Regions from separate parts of the Homo sapiens genome. Here region 2 is linked to region 1. Evidence: fine-mapped expression QTL. Tissue or cell type: coronary artery. Region 1 holds a variant in brackets; the other region holds the start of a gene. All regions are shown on one strand. Distances are from middle to middle.

Evidence for each region. PIP is the estimated chance that this variant, and not a neighbour inherited with it, causes the effect.
Region 2: it holds the start of RBM23, and the variant in region 1 is fine-mapped to the expression of RBM23 in coronary artery (GTEx, PIP 0.98).

What each region holds. Positions count from the first base shown.
Region 1 is chr14:23,000,283-23,008,384 of GRCh38, reverse strand. The region is part of intron 1 of C14orf93 (chromosome 14 open reading frame 93); the gene reads left to right. It overlaps LOC124903286 (a long non-coding RNA gene), which reads right to left and starts at 5,959. Exons shown (of 2, transcript XR_007064075.1): 1 at 5,002-5,959; 2 at 1-1,817. RefSeq lists enhancers at 1-441, 1,375-1,744 and a silencer at 1,165-1,214. The variant G/A (reference allele first, on the strand shown) is at 4,346.
Region 2 is chr14:22,914,184-22,922,267 of GRCh38, reverse strand. It overlaps RBM23 (RNA binding motif protein 23), which reads left to right and starts at 3,119. Exons shown (of 14, transcript NM_001077351.2): 1 at 3,119-3,269. It overlaps PRMT5 (protein arginine methyltransferase 5), which reads left to right. Exons shown (of 17, transcript NM_006109.5): 16 at 28-92; 17 at 1,212-1,739. The coding sequence ends at 1,364. PRMT5-AS1 (PRMT5 antisense RNA 1) reads right to left here and starts at 2,812. Exons shown (of 2, transcript NR_120600.1): 1 at 1,148-2,812. RefSeq lists a silencer at 2,745-3,044 and enhancers at 3,305-3,374, 3,465-3,574, 3,645-3,814, 4,303-5,067.

The DNA.
Region 1 (8,102 bases):
CAAATTTATAACAAAAGTGGCCCTGTTTGGGCTTTCTGGGTTTCTTACTTGTGCTGAGTGTATTTTTATTCTCTAACAATTCAAGTCAGACCAGTGCTTAATAAATACTGGCTCGACTGTGGATTATTCCACAATTTCAGACCTGCATTTCTTTGAAATCTAGTCACATTTTAGTGATCTTTGTGATCACAACAGTGATGGGAGTTTTTTTTTTTTTTTTTTTTTTTTTTGAAACGGAGTTTCGCTCTTGTTGCCCAGGCTGCAGTGGCAATGGTGCGATCTTGGCTCACTGCAACCTTCGCCTCCTGGGTTCAAGCGATTCTCCTGTCTCGGCCTCCCGAGTAGCTGGGATTACAGGCATGTGCCACCATGCCGGGCTGATTTTTGTATTTTTAGTAGAGACGGGGTTTCACCATGTTGGTCAGGCTGGTCTCCAACTCCTGACTTTAGGTGATCCGCCCGCCTCTGCCTCTCAAAGTGCTGGGATTACAGGCGTGAGCCACCGCGCCCGGCCAGTTACGGGAATTTTTAATGGAGTTTTACCCTTTTTAGCTCTTTTCCACATCACTACAGGTCATCACATATACTTTTTACCTTACTTTTTAGCGTCTCAAAAAATAGGGAGAGCTCTCCCTGAACAGTGCAGAGCCCGTATCCCTGATTTCCTAGGCTATTTGATTTCTACATCCAGGAACGTAGGGTCATATCCACTGTTCTTGCTTTTTCTTCCTAAGAAAGGAGAGAATTCCTCGCACATATATATCGTTGGCTTGGCCTTCCAAAGCAAAGCAAAACTAAACTCTGTTGATTTTGCCTGGGAATCCTCGGGGCCCCTAGTATTGGAAACTTCTTTGAACTGTGAGGAGCTGCTAATTTGCAGGTGACATGTGAAAGAAATGTAACCGAGGCCAGCAGTAACTAAAAGTCGGCCACCACCCAACGTGTGACGCCGATTTGTGGCCACTGTGCTTATAATCGTGTACACACAGGTTTGTGAGCAGCAGAGAACAAAAGCAAGTAAACAAAAACAAGCTAAAGATGGCGTCTGACGGCCTTGAAAAAGCCTCACAGTCTTGTCCCTCCCTGAGGAGGCCCCTCCCCTACCTGACTTTTTGAGTGACTGTTGTTTGCAGCCAATAGTGTCCGTGACCCTGCTCCCCAGCCATCGTCTAACCGCCAATCACCGGGAGCCAGAAGGCAAACGGGGCGGTGTCTCCCCGCGTGCGCGCGGTAGCCGGGTACACGGGCAGGCGCCGCGGATAGTTCTGTCTCCCGCGCGCCCGCCTCCGCCTCTGCCTAGCTGAGTCAGCCCGTGCGGTAGCGCCAGGCACACGCGGTAGAACATCTGTAGGGCTGCAAAGCTGCACCTCCGCGTCAGTTCTCACGGCGAGCGCCGCCTTCAGCCCAAGTTCTCAAAGCTCTCGGGGCTACGTAGTCTACCCTCCCCGGTGACCCGGCGAGATCCCTAGCCGCTCCTCCGGCCGCTCTGCTCTCCGCATCCCTCGCGGGAATGACCCCCTTTACCCGGGACTCCCAGAGCGCACTGTATGGTAGGGCACAGTGGCGAGTCACCCTGTCCCCTGAGGCCTCTTGAGCAGTCGCCGATCTCTGCTTCCCGCGTCGCTGCGATCGCCTTTCCCGTAGCTGAATCACACTGACCCATCGGAAACGGTTCTGCCCTCCCTGGGGTCCACCTTGTCATCCTTGACTAATATTTAATCAACTAACATTTACCAAGTTCTCGCTGGCACGAGTTCTAGGAGCTACTTTTTCATTTTTCAGTTTCTCCATAAATGCAGTGGGTCCTTTAGGCAAACCTGAAATCGGAAATATTAATCTTACCAATGTAATCTTAGCAAATGTAAATAAAAAGGACTGTGCTATACTGGGCTAAAAATTCTCATCCTGCTATAGAAATATACGTGGAATTTTCAGATTACGTGGAATCCTTTAAAGACCGCATTCGGCCTTCTGGGTCTACAGCTCTCTTTTTTACCCCTAAAAATAAGGTCTTGGATTTTTTGCAGACCATTAGTCGAGTCACTCTTTTAAAATGTGGGAAAATAGTATTTTGTGGTATTTACTTAGCTGCTCTTGTGTGATAAGGAGCTCATTTCTGATAAAAATAGGTTTTGAGAGAACCTTTTGACAGGTGAGCCATTTTGCACCTTGAAGTGGAGGAGTAGGACTGACCAACACAGCAGGAGCTTTAAGTGGCCGTTTTCCTTATTTATTTCTTAAAATGAAGATTATGATATGAATTGCCATGCTTTCAGTAATCACATTTAAGGAAGTCTATTGCTAGCATGACCCTGAATGAGTCAAGCACCCATTATAAAAACATATATCATCTGAGTGATACCATATCATACACATCTATTAAATAGTGAGAAAACTTTTATTTTTCATAGTTTGGAGGTGAACTCAGTCATGCAGAAAATTCAAACTCAGAATGGGGAGAAAGCAAGCAAGGGAACTGCCAAGAGTATGATATATTTAGTCCTAACAAAAATGTGACTTGGGAGGAAAGGGATAGTTAAAATTATGGACAGTCTTACCCTGAACTGTCTGTCTAAAGGAGATGAATTGTCTTTCTTTTTTATCTAAATATTTATGAAAAATACCAAAAGTACTGGAAAGTACATTTTTAAGGCTCGTTTCACATTTATTTAAATTAGACCAATACTGAAATGAACCCCAAATGCTTATATTTTTTGCAAACCTAAGTGTGACATCTACTGTCATGTTGTGTTGGCAACGCATCCCAAGATTGAAGATCTTTTTCTCTTTTTTAGACCTAGTCAGTTGTTTTCAGGACTTTCTACTTAAACATGTTGCCATCATTTGAAATTTAAAATGTTAAATAAATACACTTCTTCTCTAATATACTGGTGTCTCCTCTTTTTATTTATTTATTTTTTAGAGACTGGGTCTTGCTATGCTGCCGAGGTTGGTCTCAAACTCCTGGGCTCAAGCGATCCTCCTCCTCCCAAAGTGCTGGGATTACAGGCATGAGCCACCATGCCCAGCCATGGTATTTCCTCTCAACTGCCTCATTTCTGTCATTCTGGTGGTGGTGGTGGTACCATCCTGTTACTCTTAGGCTTATAACCTTGCAGTTGTCTTTAACCAATTATCTCTATACCCCATCTCTATAACTCTGTCAATTCTCCTTATCTTACTATATAAGCGCCTTTGCTCTGACCTCTGACATGTACCCTGTTAAGTCCTGTAATTTTTTTTTTTTCCTCTAGAATGTCTTACTACCCTATCAGTTAATCCTATACATTGCTCAAGGCTCAACTGGAAGCTTTTCTTCTGTAAGAACTCTTTCTCAGTATGATTTCATTTTGTTAATGTTTCCATTATTTTGAACTAACGCCTCAGAAATTTTTCAGTCTATACCATATTATTAGGACTTGTGTGTATTTCACTTTGTTATTTATTTGTTTGTTTATTTATTTTTGAGACGGAGTTTCACTCTTGTTGCCCAGGCTGGAGTGCAGTGGTGCGATCTTGGCTCATTGCAACCTCCACCTCCCGGGTTCAAGTGATTCTCCTGCCTCAGCCTCCCGAGTAGCTGGGATTACAGGCATGTGCCACCACACCCAGCTAATTTTGTATTTTTAGTAGAGACAGGGTTTCTCCATGTTGGTCAGGCTGGTCTCGAACTCCTGACCTCAGGTGATCTACCCGCCTCAGCCTCCCAAAGTGCTGAGATTATAGGTTTGAGCCACTGCACCTGGCCTCAATTTGTTTTTTAGATAGTCCATGTTTAGAACATCCCATATTCTTTAGACATTCCCATCTGAAATACACTTTAAGTGCCTTATAGGTAGAGACTTTGTCTTCCTTTCATTTGAGTAGTGTGCAATGCATTTTGGTGAGTCATCCTTTAACATGGACTTACATATAAAAAACTTTTGGGCCTGGGCACAGTGGCTCACACCTGTAATCTCAGCACTTTGGGAGGCCAAGGTGGGCGGATCACTTGAGGTCAGCATTCATTAGTCAGGTGTGGTGGTGCATACCTGTAATCCCAGCTCTTCGGGAGGCTGAGGCAGAAGAATCGCTTGAACCTGGGAGGCAGAAGTTGCAGTGAGCCGAAATCGTGCCACTGCACTCCAGCCTGGGCGACAGAGTGAGACTCTGTATCAAATATATATATATATATTTTGGCCGGGAACGATGGCTCACGCCTGTAATCTCAGCACTTTGGGAGGCTGAGGAGGGCGGATCACAAGGTCAGGAGTTCAAGAGCAGCCTGGCCAATATGGTGAAACCCTATCTCTACTACAAATACAAAAATTACCTGGGAGTGGTGGCACATGCCTGTAGTCCCAGC[G/A]ACTCTGGAGGCTAAGGCAGGAGAATTGCTTGAACCTGGGAGGTGGAGGTTGCAGTGAGCCAAGATCGTGCCTCCACACTCTAGCCTGGGCGACAGAGCGAGACTCTGTCTCAAAAAAAAAAAAAAAAAAAAAAAAAAAAATATATATATATATATATATATATATATATATATATATATATGAATATATTAGCCTAAAAATATCTCACCCCACTCACCAGCTCACCTTCTTTTTTTCTGAGCCGGAGTCTCGCCCTGTCTCCCAGGCTGGTGTGCAATGGTGTGATCTTGGCTCACTGCAACCTCTGCCTCCTGGGTTCAAGCCATCCTCCTGTCTCAGCCTCCTGAGTAGCTGGGATTACAGGCACGCGCCAGCATGCGCGGCTACTTTTTTTTGTTTTGTTTTTTGTATCTTTAGTAGAGACAGGGTTTCACCATGTTGGCCAGGCTGGTCTCGAACTGACCTCAGGTGACCCGCCCACCTCAGCCTCCCAAAGTGCTGGGATTATAGGCGTAAGCCACGTGCCTGGCCCAGCTCACCTTCTTTAATGGGGGTATATGCAGCTAATGAAATTAATGTTTTGTTTTGAGTCATTTATCCAGCACTTAAGTAGTTACCTGGTTAGTAAATATAATGTGAAATACTCGTTTATTACCTGCTGATCCCAATATCTTTCCATATCTTAGAGTTTAGGTGAGAGACTATAGCAAGAGGCTGGGAAATGAAGTCAGCAATAGTGTCCATGGAAACCAAAAAAGAATTCTTTGAATGCCCATTGTGCTAGACCACACTGTACCTAGTTTTTATAGGCAAATTAATTCAGGAAAACACCTATTTGTTGCCCTGAATGTGATGTTTTAAAATGGACATAGTATGGTAACATACAAAGTAGAAAAACAGAAGAGCAATTGAGGAACAAATTGAACTCACAATAGGAAAATACATTTAGCATTAAAAACTAGCATAAAATATTATCCTTAGTCTGAGACCAGGTCATGATAGCAAGTAAATTACAAATACTAAATTACCTTTCTAATTTGCGTCATAGAAGGTTTTGTATCTATAAATGCATCCTCATAGACTTGAGGAATGTGTTGTTTGTTAGAAATTCAATATTAAATTTGGGGGCAAATTTCCCCAAATTCTATTTCAAGCCATTGCATTTTATTCAAAATTAGGGAATCAGGAATCAAGGTGGTGGCTCGCACCTGTGATCCCAGCTACTCAGGAGGCTGAGGCAGGAGGATGGCTTGAGGCCAGGAGTTGAAGACCAACCTGGGCAACATAGCAAGACCCCGCCTCTTAAAAAAAAAAAGATTAAGGAATCAGGGTGGGTGTCCAGGTTGGGAACACAAAATGTTACAGGAATAACCATAATATCATCCAGCCGTTACTAGTGGAGCACTGACCATGTGCCAGCACTCTATAGGTGCCTTACATATATTATGTATAATCTTCACAAAAACCACTCAAAGTAGATAGTGATGAAGAAACTTGGTCTCAGAAAAGTGAAATAATTTACTAATGTTCACACAGCTCATAAATGGTGCAGCCAGAGGAGAACCTCATTTTTTTTTTTTTTTTTTTGAGATGGAGTCTCGTTCCATCACCCAGTCTGGAGTGCAGTGGCGTGATCTCGGCTCACTGCAACCTCTGACTCCTGGGTTCAAGCAATTCTTCTCCCTCAGCCTCCTGAGTAGCTGGGATTACAGACAAGTATCACCATGCCTGGCAATTTTTTTGTATTTTTAGTAGAGATAGGGTTTCACCATGTTGGCCAGGCTGGTCTAGAACTCCTAACGTCAAGTTATCCACCCACCTCAGCCTCCGAAAGTATTGGGATTACAGGTGTGAGCTACCACGCCCGGCCACCCTTTTTTTTTTTTTTTTGAGACGGAATCTCGCTCTGTCGCCCAGGCTGGAGTGCAGTGGTGCGATCTCGGCTCACTGCAAGCTCCGCCTCCCGGGTTCACGCCATTCTCCTGCCTCAGCCTCCAGAGTAGCTGGGACTACAGTCGCCCGCCACCACGCCCGGCTAATTTGTTTGTATTTTTAGTAGAGACGGGGTTTCACTGTGTTAGCCAGGATGGTCTCCATCTCCTGACCTCGTGATTCGCCGGCCTCGGCCTCCCAAAGTGCTGGGATTACAGGCGTGAGCCACCGCCCAGCCCTTTTTTTTTTTTTTTTTTTTTTTTTTTTAACCTGCAGTACAGTGCTGTTTTGGAAAGATGACCAAGGAAGGACGACCAAGGAAAGACTATTTAAAGAAGAAGGAGCTGGGCGCAGTGGCTCACACCTGTAATCCCAACACTTTGGGAAGCTGAGGCGGGTGGATCACCTGAGGTCAGGAGTTCAAGACCAGCCTGGCCAACAGCGCGAAACCCTGTCTCTACTAAAAATATAAAAATTAGCCATATGTGGTGGCACGTGTCTGTGATCCCAGCTACTTGGGAGGCTGAGGCAGGAGAATCACTTGAACCTGGGAGGCAGAGCTTGCAGTGAGCCGAGATCTTGCCATTGCACTCTGGCCTGGGCAACAGAGCGAGACTCCGTCTCAAAAAAATGATAAATAAAAATAAAAGAGAGGGGAAGAGCTTGAGGCAGGCTCAACACTGGTAGGGGTAAAAGCCTCTTGCAAGAAAGAGTAAGTGCGTGAGGCAAGAGAGTTTGGTACCAGAAAGGAGTTAGACAACTCAGCCAGTGTCCCAGCCGGATGCATCTTAATTACTGATTTTACAAATACTGAACCCAGCTGGCAAGCATTTGAATACTATTATTTATTATCACCAAAACATTCTTTTGCCCACAGCATCTATGTTTAAGAGCAAACTCCCTGCATGATGTAGGTTAAATAAAGAATTAAAAAGAAAAAGCTCTGCAGGAGCAGTGTAGGCCCTTATTTAGGAAGGAAAAGAATACATAAGTGATTCATCTATAAATTGACATAGAAGTGCTTAGTGCTTTCCTTTAACCTTTAGTTTTAATTTGGTTTAACCTTTAGTTTCAGGTTTAGCTGTGCCTCCCAGTGACTATAATGACAAGGAAGCTGTAAATGTATTTGAGTTAAGCTTTTGCGAGAAGTAAGTATCTGGCACAGAAAAAGCCATTTCTTCGATATAAAGGGTGGAAAGAGCAAATTAAAGACTATTCTTTAATAACCACATGTAATTAAAATGCATTGTCAGATTTATGTTTTAGTACCTCAGAGGCATTGATATTGCCTCTTTCTGAAATGAGATTGCCTATTCAAAAAGAAAAAAGAAAACCCTCAATATATAGAAAATTCTCTTAACCTCCTACTCTTTTTTTTTTTTTTTTTTTTTTGAGGTGGAGTCTCGCCCTGTTGCCAGGCTGGAGTGCAGTGGCACCATCTCGGCTCACTGCAACCTTTGCCTCCCGGGTTCAAGTGATTCTCCTGCCTCAACCTCCCGAGTAGCTGGGGTTACAGATGCCCGCCACTACGCCCGGTTAATTTTTGTATTTTTAGTAGAGACAGGGTTTCACCATGTTAGTCAGGCTGGTCTCAAACTCCTGACCTCAGGTGATCGGCCCACCTCAGCCTTCCACAGTGCTGGGATTACAAGCGTGAGCCACCATGCCCGGCTCCTCCTCTCCTTTTAATTGTGATGTTTTAATTTACAGGGTAAGAGAGAAATGCATCTCTCAGAGAAATTGTAAACATACTTAAGGTTTTGACATGGCACATCAGAAGGATTTTTTTTCTATCATCAAGTATTATTTAGAAAATTACAATAT
Region 2 (8,084 bases), 86 kb after region 1:
TGTTTTTTCATTATTTTGTCCACACAGGTATCCGTCCAGAGACTCACTCTCCTGGGATGTTCTCATGGTTTCCCATCCTCTTCCCTATTAAGGTAGGAACTGCTTTTAAGACTCTCTAGTTAAGCAGTAACCTTTGCCTTTGGTGTTGTGCTTCTTTCCTTCTCCCAGGAAGATAGTTGACTATGACTCATGTTCTCCTGATTTCATATGCTCTTGGATCCCAGTGGTAGGTGTTGGGAGTATTTGGAGTGGCCTTCTGCCTGGCTTTCCCGCATCTACTCTGGCTACTCTTCTGTCTGTTCTCTACTTTGAGCAAGAGTCATCTTTTAAAAACTCAAATTTGATCTTATCTCTCTTGCTGTCTTTTTTTTTTTTTTTTTTTTAAAGAGACGGAGTCTCACTCTGTCGCCCAGGCTGGAGTGCAGTGGCACAATTTCGGCTCACTGCAAGCTCCGCCTCCCGGGTTCATGCCATTCTCCTGCCTCAGCCTCCCTGAGGCTGAGATTACAGGTGCCAGCCACCACACCCGGCTAATTCTTGTATTTTTAGTAGAGACGGGGTTTTACCGTGTTAGCCAGGATGGTCTCGATCTCCTGACCTCATGATCCGCCCACCTCAGCCTCCCAAAGTGCTGGGATTACAGGCGTGAGCCACCGCGCCTGGCCTGATCTTATCTCTCTTTTTTGCTTAAAACTCTTCAATGCCTTCCCATTGTCTTTAGGATAAAAGTCAAAATCTGGGACATTGCTTGTAAGACTTGATGTGATCGAGTGTTTGCTTGCCTTTGCAGCTACTGTCCCCTTGCTTACACTGCTTCAGCCTTATGGACCTTCTTTTTGTTCTAATTGTCTATCTTCTTTCCTACCTCAGGCTTTCATGCCTTTCTCTTGCCTGTAGAGTTCTTTGCTTGTCTCTTCACACAGTTAACCTATCTTCTAGGTCTTCTTTAAACATTTTTATTGTGAGATAAACTTTCTCTGATCTCCTAGACTAGGTTAGTGTTCCCTTTCATAGGTGTTTTTCTGACTCTGTACATGTTCACAGCTCTCACCACACCTTTGATTATTTGTGTTCTGATAGGCTTCAAATAACTTTCATGAGGGTTGGGACAGTCTTGTCATGTTTATCATTTTATCTCCACACCTACCTTAATACATTGCCATGTATAATTCATAGCTTCACCCTGAACCTTCCTGTCTTTCTTCTTACAGCAGCCCATAACGGTACGTGAAGGCCAAACCATCTGTGTGCGTTTCTGGCGATGCAGCAATTCCAAGAAGGTGTGGTATGAGTGGGCTGTGACAGCACCAGTCTGTTCTGCTATTCATAACCCCACAGGCCGCTCATATACCATTGGCCTCTAGCCCTGCGTGCCAAGTGTCCAGAGCCTTGGAAGCAGCTTCAGGTTCTGCTCCTGTAGTACAGAAGGTGCAGTACATCTATGGGCTGTGATTCCCCTTGCCCATCAGAGAGGAGCATTTCAATCTGCTTTCCTGCCTTACATCAAGGTGGGCAAGGGATTATAATTAATTGCAGGGCTCAAGCCACCAATCTATGAAGACCTCAGGCCAGGGGGTGAGGAATTAGTGCTGGATTTGAAGCTACGCACTCAGCCTCAAGAACTCCCTGGAATATCCCTGAGAACATGGGGTTTGAACGGATTTTCAGCCTTTTTCTGTTCTTGTTTTGATGGTTTTGTGTAAGAGGAAATACAAATAAAGTTATAGCCCTTTACTGCACGACCATGCTGCCCCCTGCCACTATTTTCCCACACCTCACTTAGACCCAGGCATGTTCAGATCTGTCCTCTTAGCCTATCCAAGACCCAAAGGGGCCTAGTTGTATTCCCTACTTAGGAAGCTGAGCAATGACTATTGTAGTCCTGGATATAGGCCTTTCTGACCAGCTACAGTGAGCTCTTGTCCATTAGAACCTACAGTTAGGCTTTTCTCTGGGGAGGAGGCATAGAGTTTGCCACCTTGGAAAAAGATGGAATAGTGAGTGAAGCCAGTTTCTCTTCTGTATTCTTGAGCTACTGCACGGGCAACTGGTTACCTCTCCTTTGTTACCTCTTGGGAAGACTGGAATCCATCCAGGAATCTCCAGCAAGAAGCTACCTGTTTTTTTTGAATAAAACCACAGGGTTACAGTTTGAAGTCCTAAGAGATCATCTAGTCCAATTTTCCATTTTACAGAGGGGGAGTTTGAAATGGGTACAATGATGTGATATTAGTATCCAAGTCAGAATTGGAAGTCAGGTCCTCCGACTCTGGCTCTCCCCATGTTATAACCAGCTACATTTTTGGTAGCTACAGTAGACCACAGAAGTGTCTAGGGGCTCCTGGAGGCCCCTGGAAAGTGAGGGTGGACATCAGTTCCTTCTTTCCGGTTAGAGGACTCAGTACTGCTACATCCAAGGAGTCACCTGAGAAACTTTCAAATTTACCCTTGCAGTGGGAAATGTGGGGGTACTGATTTGAACGGAAGTTATGACCTGTGGGAGCAGGCCATGACGATAGGGCAGAGTGTGGGCCAAGACAAGTCTGTGGCAAGATCTGCTTTTCCCTGGTCCCAAGCACCGAGGTCAGGAGAGGTGGTCGGGAAGGTTGTTTAGGTAGCCGGCTCAGAACGGGGATTTCGAGTTCAGCATCCCCGGACGTTAAACAAACGCCGCTGTTCTCTACAAAGCTTAACCTTAACGACCGACGTGACTCCTTCAGCAAATCCGAGTAGGGACGGCCAAGGATGTAAATTGTGCCTCCTCGTTGGCTCCGCCCATCGCACTGGTCTAGTCTACGCGAGCACCAGGAGTGGGGTTGGTGGCTTCTTCACTCCCGTTTTCAGTCCCGTTTTCCCCGCCCTCCGCAAGTCATTTAACCAATGAGAGAGTGATGGGCGGCTACCAAAGGACGCTTCCATTTTCTGGAGTCTCTGAGGTTAGCCAATCAATGGGAACTCGGTGGTTGCTAAGACGCATTTGAGTTTGCTCCACCCATACTTAGGACTTTAGCCAATGAGAACCTGTACTTTGGACGGTTGCCGCGAAACCAGTGAGGTTATTTCCAAAGCCGGGGAGTCTTGGCGCATGCGCAGATTGGGGAAGGTTCTGGAAGACGGCAGAGCTGCCGCCATTTTGCGGGAAGAGGAGGCTCTGTACCTGCAGTGCTGCTTTTCTTGCCTAGACTCTAGGAACTATCCGAGCTCCACTCCCCACAACATACTCAAAGGAACGGAGAGAACCGGGACCCCCCTGCGGGGACCCGGAACTGGTGAGAAACCCCAAAACCCGGTCCCCACCAGACGTCACCAATGCGTGACGTTGCTGCACGGCGCCTCCCCCCTGACGTCACGGGCAGAAAATGGCGTCACGAAGAGATTCAGGCGAACTTTTAACATTAAAAAAACCTTTGTTTGTTTTGACCTGGAAGTGTTAGCTACTTAAATGTAGCCCACTGCCACGATTTTAGAGTTGGGCACCCTCGTGGCTGTATCTTGCACCGATAAAGATGCGGTTTCTAGAATCCTGTGATTTTTCTTTCCGGGTCTCTGCAGCCGTGACACTTAGGGTCGCCCACACTGGAGAGGGAGCATCGACCCTCCGCGGCCTGAGAGGACACGCATCATCAGTTTCAGCCACTCGCACCACCATTCAGAGAGAGAGAAGGGAATTGAGCTTTCTTCCTCAATCTCTAGTCTGTCGAAGATTCATGTTCACTATGTTGACCTTTATGGGCTTTTCCCATTTAACTTTTTCAAGCACTCATTCCAGTAGGCGTATTATGATGCCACATATGAAGATTGAGCCCTGGGACACTGGCTCCCGCAGAGATTGTGCCAGTTGGTTGCCTATAGGACCTCTTTTTTTTTATTTTTTTAAGGCGGAGTGTCGCTTTGTCACCCAGGCTGGAGTGGAGTGGCGCGATCTCGGCTCACTGCATCCTGTCTCCCGGGTTCTAGCGATTCCCCTGCCTCAGCCTCCCGAGTAGCTGGGATTACAGGCGCCTGCCACAACGCCCGGCTAATTTTTGTATTTTTAATAGAGATGGGGTTTTGCCATGTTAGCCAGGCTGACCTCGAACTCCTGACCTCAGGTGATCCACCCGCCTCGGCCTCCCAAAGTGCTGGGATTACAGGCGTGAGCCACCGCGCCCGGCCTATAGGACCATTTTTTAAAGCTACACAACATGGGGAGGGTGGTCCTTCAAGTAGCTTTTATCGTTCTCATTGTTCCTCTTTTGTTAAGCTGCCTTCAGTTTGTAGGTGTTTGTGCCCAGCTAAGTGATCAGACCCTGGGGATGGCGCTACCATCACCCCTGGGGCTCCAGCTTTTCGTGAATTCTTCCCGAATTGGTCTGACAGTGGTTCTCTCTGCTCCTTTAGCAGTGGGGTCTATCTGTTGGCTTGTGCTATGACGAGGTCTAGGAACTGACGTGATTGTGGGTCTCTAATACTGTTTTTGGAGCAGGATGGAAGAAAACATACTCTATGTGGATGAGATTGAGTGGACCTTGACCCATAAGTTGGGACATGAAGAGAGCGTTTGAAAACTACCAACCTGGGCCGGGTGCAGTGGCTCACGCCTGTAATCCCAGCACTTTGGGTGGCCGAGGCGGGCGGATCACGAGGTCAGGAGATCGCGACCATCCTGGCTAACACGGCGAAACCCCGTCTCTACTAAAAATACAAAAAAAAAACAAAAAAGAAGAAAAAAGAAAAAACTACCAGCCTGAAAATGCATAGTGTTTGCTACCTTATTGCTTTTAGCACATCTAGAAAGACACTAAACCCAGTGAGATTGCAAGTTTCAAAATATTGTGTTGTATATGGCTTTGCTTAAACGGATATATTTGTTTCTGAGTGAAAACTTTTTACGTAGAGGTTTATTTGTAGAGGCTTGTAAACTTAAGTGTAAGTTTTAGTGTGTGTGTTAAGTTGTTCTTACCCCGCATTAGCACTCAACAATGAGCAGTTCTTGAAATCAAGCATTTCATTTGGAGGGGAAAAAGCAGATTGTAAAAAATAGTTCATAACAGAAAATTTGTGTAGACTTGGCAGCAAAAATGACTGAAACAGCTTGAGTATAAAAAACTTTTCTTTTTAGGCCGGGCTCGGTGGCTCATGTCTGTAATCCCAGCCCTTTGGGAGGACCAGGCAGGCGGATCACCTGAGGTCAGGAGTTCGAGACCAGCCTGACCAATGTGGAGAAACCCCGTCTCTGCTAAAAATACAACATTAGCCAGGTGTGGTGGTGCCTGCCTGTAATCCCAGCTACTTGGGAGACTGAGACAGGAGAATTGCTTGAACCTGGGAGGTGGAGGTCGCAGTGAGCCGAGATTGCGCCATTGCACTCCATCCTGGGCAACAAGAGTGAAACTCTCTCAAAAAAAAACAAAAACAAACTTTTCTTTTTAGAACTATTTTCCCATAGTGTATATTAGTCTAATACCTTTAAGCATACACTGTACATGCCTCAGATATAGGAGACTCACAATGAGGTTTAGCTAATGGGACTGATTATTTTGATAAACATATGAGAAGAACATTCATGTTCAGTGAGTATATATTTAAAAGTAGGTATCTTGGTATACTGTGTCCTTTTTTTTTTCCTTTAAAGTTAATTACAAACCATATGAGAAGTAATCTGATATAATAGATATAATGTTAGATTTGAAGTCAGAAAACCTTTCTGATCAAGAATTAGCTCCTCTGGCCAGATGTAATCCTAGTACTTTGGGAGGCTAAGGTGGGTGGATCTGTTGAGTCCGGGAGTTTGAGACCAGCCTGGGCAACATAGTGAGACCATGTCTCTACCAGAAAAAAAAAAAAAGCCCAAAATATGAAAAGTTAGCCTGGCATCATAGTGCACACCTGTGGTCCCAGCTACTGGGGAAGCTGAGGTTAGAGGATTGCTTGAGCTAGAGAGGCAGAGGTTGCAGTGAGCCGAGATTGCAACATTACACTCCAGCTTGGGCAACAGAGTGAAATCCTGTCTCAAAAAAAAAAAAAAACATTCTTCCCTTTGAGCTGTGTGACCTTCTCTGTTTTGGGGATTGAGACAGAATCTCAATCTGCTGCACAGACTGGATTGCAGCGGCATGATCACAGTTCACTGCAGCCTCAACTTCCTGGGTTCAAGCGATCCTTCCATTTCAGGCTCCTGAGTAGTTGGGACTACAGGCACGCACCACCATGCGTGGCTAATTTTTATATTTTTTGTAAAAATGGGGCCTCACTGTATTGCCCAGGCTGATTTTGACTTGGCCTCAAGCCATTCTCCAGCCTTAGCTTCCCAAAGTGCTGAGATTGCAGGCGTGAGCCACCCCCTCTGCCTGGCCCTTGAGCTATGTATGACTTTGAGCAGTTCAAAAAACGTTAGTTTTAAAAAATTTGGGTATGAATCATATATTACCTGTCTGCAGCATTTGTTACCTTTGATTGCTAAATAAATATAAAGTGTTACTGGAAGAAGTAGAAGGCCGGGCACAGTGGCTCATGCCTGTAATCCCAGCACTGGGAGGCCGAGGCAGGCGGATTACCTGAGGTCAGGAGTTTGAGACCAGCCTGGCCAACATGGTGAAACTTTGTCTCTACTAAAAATACAAAAATTAGTGGGACGTAGTGGCGGGCACCTGTAATCCCAGCTACTCAGGAGGCTGAGGCAGGAGAATCGCTTGAACCTGGGAGGCAGAGGTTGGCGTGAACTGAGATTGTGCCACCGCACTCCAGCCTGGACAACAGAGCTAGACTCCTTCTCAAAAAAAAAAAAAAAAAGCCAGGCATGGGGCTTATGCCTGTAATCCCAGCACTTTGGGAGGGCGAGGCGGTCGGATCACCTGAGGTCGAGAGTTCGAGACCAGCCTGACTAACACGGAAAACCTGGTCTCTACTAAAAATACAAAATTAGCTGGATGTGGTGGCGCATGCCTGTAATCCCAGCTACTCAGGAGGCTGAGGCAGGAGAGTTGCTTGAACCTGGGAGGCAGAGGCAATTGAGTTTACTGGTTTTTATGTATACCAATTTGATTTGGGTTTAATTTCCATTTAAGCCTTAAATTTGGCTCCAAGTAATTTTTCTCTAAGAATCTTCTCTCTCCATAACATGCTTAGCACAGTGTCTAGCAGTTGTAGGTACTGTAAGTCATAGAATCATAGTTGTAATTATTACACTTATTTAATTGTCAAAATAGGATATGGACTCTTAGGGCAACCAAGGCAGCATTGTTGCATAGTGCATTAGCTGCTTTAAAGAGGACAAAGTTCCTCTTTTTTTTTTTTTTTTTTGAGATGGAGTCTTACTCCATCTTACACCCAGGCTGGAGTGCAGTGGTGTGATCTCGGCTCACTGCAACCTCTGCCTCCCAGGTTCAAGCGATTCTCCTGTCTTAGCCTCTTGAGTAGCTGGGACTACAGGCGCCCACCACCATGCCCGGCTAATTTTTGTGTCTTTAATGGGGATGAGGTTTCACCATATCCGTCAGGCTGGTATTGAACTCCTGACCTCAGGTGATCCACCCACCTTGGCCTCCCAAAGTACTGGGATTACAGGGTGAGCCACCACGGCTGGCCAACAAAGTTCTTACAGTTATGAAAAAGTCTGATTATGATAGCCTCCTTGCATAGAAATTCCTCAGGTTTTTTTTTTTAACGGCATGATTGAGGTACATTTAATGGGCACACGATAAAACTGTATACATTAAAGTGTACACTTTCATGCGTTTTGATATGTTAAACACCCGTGAAACCATCACTCCCAAAGATTTGTTTGTTTTTGTATTTTTGAGACAGTCTCGCTGTGTCATCCAGGCTGGAGTGCAATGGCGTGATCTTGGCTCACTGCAACCTCTGCCCTCTGGGTTCAAGCAATTCTAGTGCTTCAGCCTCCTGAGTAGCTGGGATTACAGGTGCTTGCCACCACACCCGGCTATTTTTTTTTTTTTTTTTTTTGAGACAGAGTCTTGCTCTGTCACCAGGCTGGAGTGCAGTGGCACGATCTTGGCTCACTGCAACCTCTGTCTCCCGGGTTCAAACGATTCCCCTGCCTCAGCCTCCTGAGTAGCTGGGACAACAGGCGTGCGCCACCATGC